3 linked regions of the Homo sapiens genome follow. The protein of the gene in region 1 purifies or fractionates together with the protein of each later gene. This does not show direct contact. Each region holds a gene or a part of one and is shown on either strand. Other genes may lie near its edges.

What was found.
Region 2: the proteins of DEFB125 (region 1) and FBN2 purify together in Homo sapiens (affinity purification with mass spectrometry; one large-scale study listed by BioGRID and IntAct). This does not show direct contact.
Region 3: the proteins of DEFB125 (region 1) and OSCP1 purify together in Homo sapiens (affinity purification with mass spectrometry; one large-scale study listed by BioGRID and IntAct). This does not show direct contact.

Annotation. Positions count from the first base shown.
Region 1 is NC_000020.11:94,001-97,623, forward strand, and holds the end of DEFB125 (beta-defensin 125 preproprotein), read left to right. Parts: intron 1-2,004; coding exon 2,005-2,417; 3' UTR 2,418-3,094; downstream 3,095-3,623. UniProt on the Homo sapiens protein: Has antibacterial activity.
Region 2 is NC_000005.10:128,257,324-128,259,903, reverse strand, and holds the end of FBN2 (fibrillin-2 precursor), read left to right. Parts: intron 1-74; coding exon 75-449; 3' UTR 450-1,995; downstream 1,996-2,580.
Region 3 is NC_000001.11:36,422,861-36,426,521, reverse strand, and holds part of OSCP1 (protein OSCP1), read left to right. Parts: intron 1-3,055; coding exon 3,056-3,159; intron 3,160-3,551; coding exon of another isoform or gene 3,552-3,585; exon of another isoform or gene 3,586-3,625; coding exon 3,626-3,661. UniProt on the Homo sapiens protein: May be involved in drug clearance in the placenta.

The sequences.
Region 1 (3,623 bases):
TGTGCACCCTTTCATTCTTCAAGGTTTTTCTGTAACACTGCACCTTCAGGACCTGATGCCCAATTAAACATTTTTTTAAGTTTTTTGGTTTTTTTTTAATAAAAACTAAATGCTATTTTTTCTTCTACTTTTAGTTGATGTGTAATAATTGTTCATATTTAGAAGATGCAGAGTGATATTTTGATACATGTATACAATGTGTAATGATCAAATCAGGGTAATTAGCATATCTATCACCTCAAACATTTGTCATTTTTTTATATTGGGAACATTCAGAATCGTCTCTTCTAGCTATTTGAAAATATACAGTAAATGATTGTTAACTACCGTCACCCTACAGTGCTATAGAACAGTGGACCCCTTTTGGCACCAGGGACCAGTTTTGTGGAAGACAGTTTTTTCGACGAGGTGAAGGTGGTGGTGGGGATGGTTTCAGGATGAAACTGTTCCACCTCAGGTCATCAGGCATTAGAGTCTCACAAGGAACACACATCCTAGATCCCTCACATGCACAGTTCACAATAGGGTTCATGCTCCTATGAGACTCTAATGCCTTGGCTGATCTGACAAGAGATGGAGCTCAGGTGGTGATGCTTGCACACCTGCTGTTCACCTTTTGCTGTGCAGCCTGGTTCCTAACAGGCCATGGACCAGTACCCATTGGCTGCCCAGGGGTTGGGGACCCCTGCTATAGGATGCTGGAACTTTTTCCTCCTATCTAGGTGTAATTTTCTATCTGTTAACCAACCTCTCTCTATCCTCCTTTCCCTTCCCAGCCTCTAGTAATCATTATTCTACAGTCTACTTCTATGAACTCAACTTTTTTAGCTCCTGCTTATGAATGAAAACATGTGGTATTTATCTTTTTGTGTCTATTTCACATAACGGAATGTAACATGTCCCCCAGGCTCATCCATGAGTCTGAGGCTTATTTGTAGCCTGGCTGCTGGGCTTCCCTGTGGGATTGTCCTCTGAGCAAACAGAACACAGCCATCCTGCTGGCCAGCAGTTGATAGATGATCTCATGATAATAACAGGTTATAACTCACCTTTTCTTGGATTTCTTGCTTTCCTGATTTCTACATTTCTCCACTGATTTTTTTTAAGGAGGAATTGTCTCTCAACTAAACTATTATATTCAAATCTTTGCTGGAGCTCTGCTCTGCTGGGGGTCTGCTTTAAGACTCTAGAGTCTTATTCTCCTGTTTTGATCTGACTTATCTTATTGGTCCTTTTAAGTCGTTTCCTCTTATCTGATCTCTTATCTCTTAATATTGAAACTCACTAGAATTTAATTCTAGTCCTCTTTTTTTCTCATATTATTCCAACCCACCATGGTTTACCAATTTCTGTACTTTAAATGCTATCCATAAGCAATCACATTTATTGATTTGCATATGTCGAACCAACCTTGCATTCCAAGGATAAAGGCTACTTGATCGTAGTGGATAAGCTTTTTGATGTGCTGCTGGATTCAGTTTGCTACTATTTTGTTCAGGATTTTTGCACTGATGTTCATCAAGGATACTGGCCTGAAATTTTTTTTTTCTTGTGTCTCTGCTAGGTTTTGGTCTCAGGATGATGCTGGCCTCATAGAATAAGTTAAAGCGGAGTCCTGCCTTCTCAATTTTGGGTGAATAGTTTCAGTAGGAATGATACCAGCTCTTCTTTGTATATCTGGTAGAATTCAGCTGTGAATCCATCTGGTCCTGGGCTTTTCATTTTCATCCTTTCTTTCTAGGTTTCGTATCAGTCTCAGTATGCTCTCTCTCTCTCCGTCCCTCTCTTTTTCTACATTTCTCCTTTTCTCCATACAACTTCTTTGATGGCACATAGCACAATTTTAATATACACTTTTTGTTCTCCTGTTTGTCTCTTACAATGGCTTTTTGTATTTGACATCATATTAGTCTAGATGTCAGTCAGTGTAAATTTTTGAATGAATGAAAAGTTGTTATGTTGATGCCAGAGTTAAAAATTTGACCTATATTTTATTCTCTACAGGTAGCTTTGAACCCCAAAAATGTTGGAAGAATAATGTAGGACATTGCAGAAGACGATGTTTAGATACTGAAAGGTACATACTTCTTTGTAGGAACAAGCTATCATGCTGCATTTCTATAATATCACATGAATATACTCGACGACCAGCATTTCCTGTGATTCACCTAGAGGATATAACATTGGATTATAGTGATGTGGACTCTTTTACTGGTTCCCCAGTATCTATGTTGAATGATCTGATAACATTTGACACAACTAAATTTGGAGAAACCATGACACCTGAGACCAATACTCCTGAGACTACTATGCCACCATCTGAGGCCACTACTCCCGAGACTACTATGCCACCATCTGAGACTGCTACTTCCGAGACTATGCCACCACCTTCTCAGACAGCTCTTACTCATAATTAATTAACATTTACTTCTGGTATGGAACAACTAGAAATACTGCTGGAAATAATATCCAAAGAGCTGATTCTACCAATCCAATTTCACCAGGAAAATTCCATCAGGGATTGGATGACCATGGGGATGGACATAATTGCTACTACCAACACAACAGCCAAGAGAGTTGCCTTACAATTAGAAATGTGTAGACAGAAATGTATAGAAGATACAAGGATTCTCTTAATTGGACTTAAATTCTTTATCTGTCTTCCTCCGATGTACTCAAATATATGAGCTAATTTTTGTCTTAAGTGAACATTTGTATATCTATGTATTTTTCCATGCCAAAAACAAAAACGAAGACCATTGTTTGGAGCTGCCTCTTATGACTAAGACAAGAATTTTTACTTTAACAGTGCCTGGCCCACTACTATCGTATATAGGAGAACATATAAAAGCATATAGAAAGTTCCAGATGAATGTTCCCTTCTCTACCCTCCACCTTTTATTGTAAGTTCTGACCCTAAATACTTTTCTGTGTCATGACGTCAAATTTTGTTTAAGGTTCTAGCTGGTAACTAACAGAGTCAGAAGCTAATTCTTTCATTCAACACAAGCACTGATCTAACTGGATAGAGATAAAAGTGGGACTTGCCTTGAGAGTACATCATATTAAATTAAAAGCTGCATCTCAAATTCTACTTATCTTTCCAATCTTCTTTCCACTTAGAATTCCAACTTCCAAGTATGGCAGCCTCATAACATGCCTCTTCAGGTCTCTGTGTTGTCCATGAATGTTAGTTGTGTGCAGTGTTTCTATGCTTTGTATGGCTGTACGCATGTGACTGCTGTTTGTATGGCAACAGGTGGGTCAGTAAGTGTCTTCTATGATACTACAGAGAAGCGGTTATTAACTATAAAGTTGATTAGGTTTTTTTTTTTTTTTGAGACAGAGTCTAGCTCTGTCGCCCAAGCTGGAGTGCAGTGGCATGATCTCGGCTCACTGCAAGCTCTGCCTCCTGGGTTAACGCCATTCTCCTGCCTCAGGCTCCCGAGTAACTGGGACTACAGGCACCCACTACCACACCTGGCTAATTTTTTGTATTTTTAGTAGAGAGGGGTTTCACCATGTTAGCCAGGATGGTCTCGATCTCCTAACCTCATGATCCATCCGCCTTGGCCTCCCAAAATGCTGGGATTACAGGTGTGAGCTACTGTGCCCGGCTGATT
Region 2 (2,580 bases), on another chromosome or scaffold:
GCAGCTGATCTCTTTCTAGTCCTCTGCTTGTGCTGTAGAAGCTTGTCCCAAATCATTTCCTGTTCTTCCTCCAGGTTGAACAGATCAGCCTAGAGAGTGTCGACATGGACAGCCCCGTCAACATGAAGTTCAACCTCTCCCACCTCGGCTCTAAGGAGCACATCCTGGAACTAAGGCCCGCCATCCAGCCCCTCAACAACCACATCCGTTATGTCATCTCTCAAGGGAACGATGACAGCGTCTTCCGCATCCACCAAAGGAATGGGCTCAGCTACTTGCACACGGCCAAGAAGAAGCTCATGCCCGGCACATACACACTGGAAATCACTAGCATCCCTCTCTACAAGAAGAAGGAGCTTAAGAAACTGGAAGAGAGCAATGAGGATGACTACCTCCTAGGGGAGCTTGGGGAGGCTCTCAGAATGAGGCTGCAGATTCAGCTCTATTAACCCTTCACAGACTTGGGCCCAGGCTCAAATCCTAGCACAGCCAGTCTGCAGAAGCATTTGAAAAGTCAAGGACTAATTTTAAAGAGGAAAAATAATAATAACTCTTGTTTCTTTCCTCCCTGTCTTAGACTTTGAATGTTGACCCTCACAGGGAGGGATAATTTAGACTCTGGTATGGCCAAAGATTTGAGCACAAAGGCAACCGTGGTTACTGTATTTTTTATATAACTTCATTTTAAAATATATTAAAAGAAACCTAAATGTTCAAGATATCAGCATATGGCACTAAATGCACAAAAATAATGTGAGCTTTTTTTTTTTTTCCTGTTAGCAGTCTGTAACACTTTGGGTATTTTGCTATAGTTGCTAATTAAAAAAATATAGATGTTTATTTATTTTTAATGCAGTAATATATGGAGAAATGAACAAACTATGTAAACAAAAAGGGAAACTCACTTGTTTTTCTTTAGATTTATAAATTTGAGCTATTTTTTTTAGAGGTGCTTTTTAAAAATCCAATAGATACAAGAGATGTTTCCTTTGGTTTTCTGCCAGTCATCCAGCTGATACACACCTGATGATTTTAAAGAAAGCCACACAGAGCTGAATGGGCAGTGTAATCAATAATTTAAAAAACATGAATGTCATTAGATCCTTTATAACGTAGATCGAAGCCAAAGCAGCTCATTTGTGACAACATTTCATATCACCAGACACACCAGGCAACAGAAGTTGAAGCACAACCACTGTAGCAAAATACCTTGACTGCTTGTGAGACCATTAGCATTGCAGGCCAAACCGTACTGTATTTCCTTCTCATAACCTCAAGGAACCATATGTGCTACCCACAACACCTCATTCTTACCCAGGGTGCGCTGCGTCCTCATGGTACTGTAGGCAGCTGAAGAACCGCCGTTCCCTTGAAAGGGAACACCTGGCATTCTGTGGTGTTTCGTGCTGTCTTAAATAATGGTGCATTTATTATGTTCAAGTTATTTCAGGATTGCCATATGTGCAAACAAATCATGCAATGCAGCCAAGGAATATATGTTGTTGTTGTTGTTTTAAACCCATTTTTTTTTTAGAATTTTCATTAATACTGTAGTTATACACCATATGCCTCATTTTATCATAGCCTATTGTGTATGAAAGATGTTTGTACAATGAATTGATGTTTAGTTTGCTTTAGTCATTTAAAAAGATATTGTACCAGGATGTGCTATTAAGAGCACGTATCCATTATTCTTCTCAACCCAAGAACCTGTTTCCTGGACCAGTGACCAAACCTCATATGTGAAATGGCCAAAGCACATGCAGGCTCCTGGTTGTTCCTCTCAAACCTGTGCTGACCAAAGATTAGTAACCAGTTATACCCAGTATTTTGAGGTTTTATTGTTTTTTTAATAACTAAAAAGAAAAAAGGAACAGTGTAAATTTGTAATCAAGAGTTTGTGAGGAAAAACTTATGGTTTTTGGTTTTGTTTGTTTTTGTAGGTCTGTGTATCAAATATGACACTTTTCTTGCAATAAAGCTTATTTTGGGGTATTTTTCTGACTGAAAATTTTATGAGACCACAACGCCTGTTGTATTTGCGGGAGGGGCTGGGGGCTTTGTCTATGGGAACCTGTATTGAAGTAATAATAGAGAGCCAGACACACAGGAAAATAAAGGAATGCTGGCAAATCTGTGAAGCAAAGTCAACATGTGTTCAACTGATGATTATGATTTGAAGTTACATTCAAATAGAAGGACATAAAGTCATTTACTTATGCATAAATTCTAAGCTTCCTGGGACCCATCTTTCTGGAAACTTCAAAGAATTTCTTCACTTCATGCTAATGCCCCCATAAAGTATCCATGAGGAAGTGAAACATTCTTTTAGAGAATCTTACTTCTCTAAGGTAGAAATTTCCTGAACCCAAGTTTTTAAGCAAAGGTAATAGCGGGCATACCCCAGGCCAAAAGGCATTTTCAAAAATAATCTAAACCTTATCTCTTAAAATGGTATACAGTTTATTCACTGGAGAAGTGGATAGATTTAACAAAGTATTTAGCATGAACTCCCTTTTGATACACTGCCAAAACAGGCACAGAAATGTTTCCAAGACTCTTAGAGATTAATTTAATACA
Region 3 (3,661 bases), on another chromosome or scaffold:
ATCCTAGGGGACCCATAGATGGAAATGTGTGACAGGCAATGGGATGGATGGGTCAGTGCCAGGGAAGGAGCTGGAGTGGGACCTTGAGATCTGGGAGCCATGAGCTCAGAGGTGAGCCCTGGAGTATGGGAGGAGACGAGATCACCTCGGAAAGGAAAGGGTGGAGGGAGAAGAAAAGGCCAGCAGAGGGGCTGAGCAAGCAAACAGACCTAACAGTCCTCTCCAGCCACTGGCAGAGTCTCAGGCCAAACACAGACACACACATGACCTAAATTTGTACATTTCAGATCTACCATGCCATAGTCAACCTCATAAGATTAAACTAACAGAGTTTCTAGCACATATAAATATTCCCAATTCTCCCTCTAAATTTTCTTTCTCCTTTCTTGTACTCACATCCCTTGGTCACAGAATCTTGAGGTTAAAAATGTCTTAAACGTCATCCAGCAAACCCTCTGACCAAACCAGTTTACATGTTCCCCTGAAAACGTGACTCACACCTGCTCATCTCCATCTCTGAAGTGTCTCTACACCTACCTTCTTCCTCCAGGCTCAGCTCCAGACCCACAGTCACGCCTGCCTCCCCCCAGACTCCCGGCATGCCAGCAGTCATTCTCCTCAGCAAGCTTCTATGCACCTGCTATGTAGCATGTCCTGCTTTAAAGTGTTATTTTCTCCATTTTATGCTTGTGTCCTGTGTCCAAATAGACTTGTAATAATAAGAGTATTGGCTACCATTTATTGAGCACATAGTCTATGTGTCAGCCTTTGCTTTTTTTTTTTTTTTTCCAGATAGAGTCTTGCTCTGTTGCCCAGGCTGGAATACAGTGACAAGGTCTCAGCTCAATGCAACCTCCACCTCCTGGGTTCAAGCGATTCTCCTGCCTCAGCCTCCCGAGTAGCCAGATTACAGGCACATGCCACCACACCCAGCTAATTTTTTGTATTTTTAGTAGAGACAGGGTTTCACCATGTTGGCCAGGCTGGTCTTGAACTCCTGACCTCATGATCCTCCCGCCTCAGCCTCCCAAAGTGCTGGGATTACTGGCGTGAGCCACTGTACCCAGCCGGCTTTACTTTTTATACACTGTCTGATTTAGTTGTCACAGTAACCCACCGAGTTATCTATTATTATTACTATTATTACCCCCAGGTTACCAAAGGGAAAACTGATGCACAGAAAGGTTGTGTAATTTCCCAAAAACCCAGAAGTGGCCCGTCCAGTATTTAAGCCTTCAGAGTCTAACATCAGTATGCCAAGCTGCCAGCTCACACATTCTTATCGCTTTGCATTTTCACTGCCTTGCACACAACAAATGCTTATTCTTTCCATTTTTTTTTTTTTTTTTGAGACAGAGTCTTGCTCTGTTGCCCAGGCTGGAGTGCAGTGGCATGATCTCGGCTCACTGCAACCTCCACCTCTGGGGTTCAAGCGATTCTCGTGCCTTGTCCTTGTGAGTAGCTGGGATTACAGGCATGAGCCACCACACCCTGGTAATTTTTTTATTTTTATTAAACACAGGGTTTCACCATGTTGGCCAGGCTGGTCTCGAACTCCTGACCTCAGGTGATCCACCCGCCTCAGCCTCCTAAAGTGCTAGGATTACAGGCGTAAGCCACCACACCCAGCCTAAGATACTTATTCTTGATTATATTACTAATATAACCTTATAGAATATTAGAGTTGAAAAGATCTTCAAGCTCATCTCTTATTTTACAGATAAGGAAGCCAAGACCCAGTAAAACTGATTAACTGCTACTATCTTTATGAGATTTAATCTGTGAGTGACCGAAACCTCTATACAGAGTACACGAACCCAGGAGAAGGAATAAGTGTAATGTGTTTTCAGTCACCTAAAAGATCCTCAAACTTAAATGTCAGCTGGATCCCCCTGCCCCAGCCCCATCCTTCTTTCTAGTCCAGCATGTGGATAAGGTTCGGGCTCCAAAGTCAGAATCACAGGAGTTTGAATCCTCAGCTCTGCCCCTTACCAGCTGGCTGACCTTGAGGAGGCATCTTAACCTCTGAGCTGCCTCATGTAGAAAGTGGCCATATGAGGTTCTTACAGCTCAAGGCCTGCAGCTGCATGGAAAGTAGGCAGGGAACCAAGGCATACGGGTGGAATTTGGAGTCACCTTTGGTTTTGAATCCTGGCCCTGCCTCTTAGCTCTCTTTGGGCAAGTCACTTCACTCTCTACTTTAGCTTTCTCGTCTTTAAAATGGGGGTAATAGGACTCACCTGGAAGGTTTGCTGCGCTGCTCAAAAGTAGTTCTGTTTGTAGCCGAGCACGGTGGCTCACGCCTGTAATCCCAGCACTTTGGGAGGCCGAGGCAGGCAGATCACTTGGGCTTAGGATTTTGAGCCTGGCCAACATGGCGAAAACCCATCTCTACAAAAAAATATAAAAATTAGCTGGGCACAGTGGCTCACACCTGTGGTCCCAGCTACTTGGGGGCTATGACGGGAGAATCGCGTGAGCTGGCGGGGCTGAGGTGGCAGTGAGGCAAGATCGTGCCACTGCACTCCAGCCTGGGTGACAAAGTGAGTCCCTATCTCAAAAAAAAAAATAGTTCTGTTTGTTAAAATACAGTTAACTCTGCAAGTGTAATTTTTTCTCCCTTCTTTTTTTTATTTTTTTATTTTTTTGAGATGAAGTCTTACTCTGTCGCCCAGGCTGGAGTGCAATGGCACGATCTTGGCTCACTGCAACCTCTGCCTTCCAGGTTCAAGCAATTCTCCTGCCTCAGCCTCCTGAGTAGCTGAGACTGCAGGTGCCCACCACCACGCCCGGCTAATTTTTTGTATTTTTAGTAGAGACAGGGTTTCACCGTGTTAGCCAGGATAGTCTCTATCTCCTGACCTCATGATCCGCCTGCCTCAGCCTCTCAAAGTGCTGGGATTACAGGCATGATCCACTGCGCCCAGCCTCTCCCTTCTTATTGTTATAAACTCATAGGTCATGTTCCCAAACCATTACGCACTTTCCACCCTCAGAATATTGATGTCTATGAAAATATACCAAGAAAAATGACAATAAATGTATTTTTTTCCAGGTATCCATGTTTCTAAAGGACAAAGTTCAGAATAATAACGGTCGCTTTGTGTTGCCGGTGTCCGGGCCTGTTCCTTGGGGAACTGAAGTTCCAGGACTCATCAGGTGAATTCCCAACAATGATCAGAGCTATGTTTGGGGTGCTAGGAAATCAGCACATGGGCCGCACACGGAATGCCGCACTGCCAAGCCACTCACAGTCTGCCCAGCCCTTCTCTTTCTTCAGTAAAACAGCTATTGAAAAAGTCAGGTTCTAATCCCCACCTTGTCACTTAGTAGAGGGACTTGAGGCAAGTTACCCAGTTCCCCAGGACTAATTTCCTCATCTGTTAAATGGTTACTGTGTGGATGAATAAGATAATAGTGCTCTAACGTGCTTACAAAGCAATTGGCACATACATATGCTCAATAAATATTATTATTGTATTATTATTATTATTATTACAACCAGCACCTTTATCTTGAAGGAGAGCATGTATTCCTTTTTTGTTCTGTAGTACAAAGAATAAAGAAGCCTCCAGGACTACCTAAGCTTGGAGAACATTCCATCATGTCATACTTTGTATTGTAGAATGTTCAACAACAAAGGTGAAGAAGTGAAGAGGAT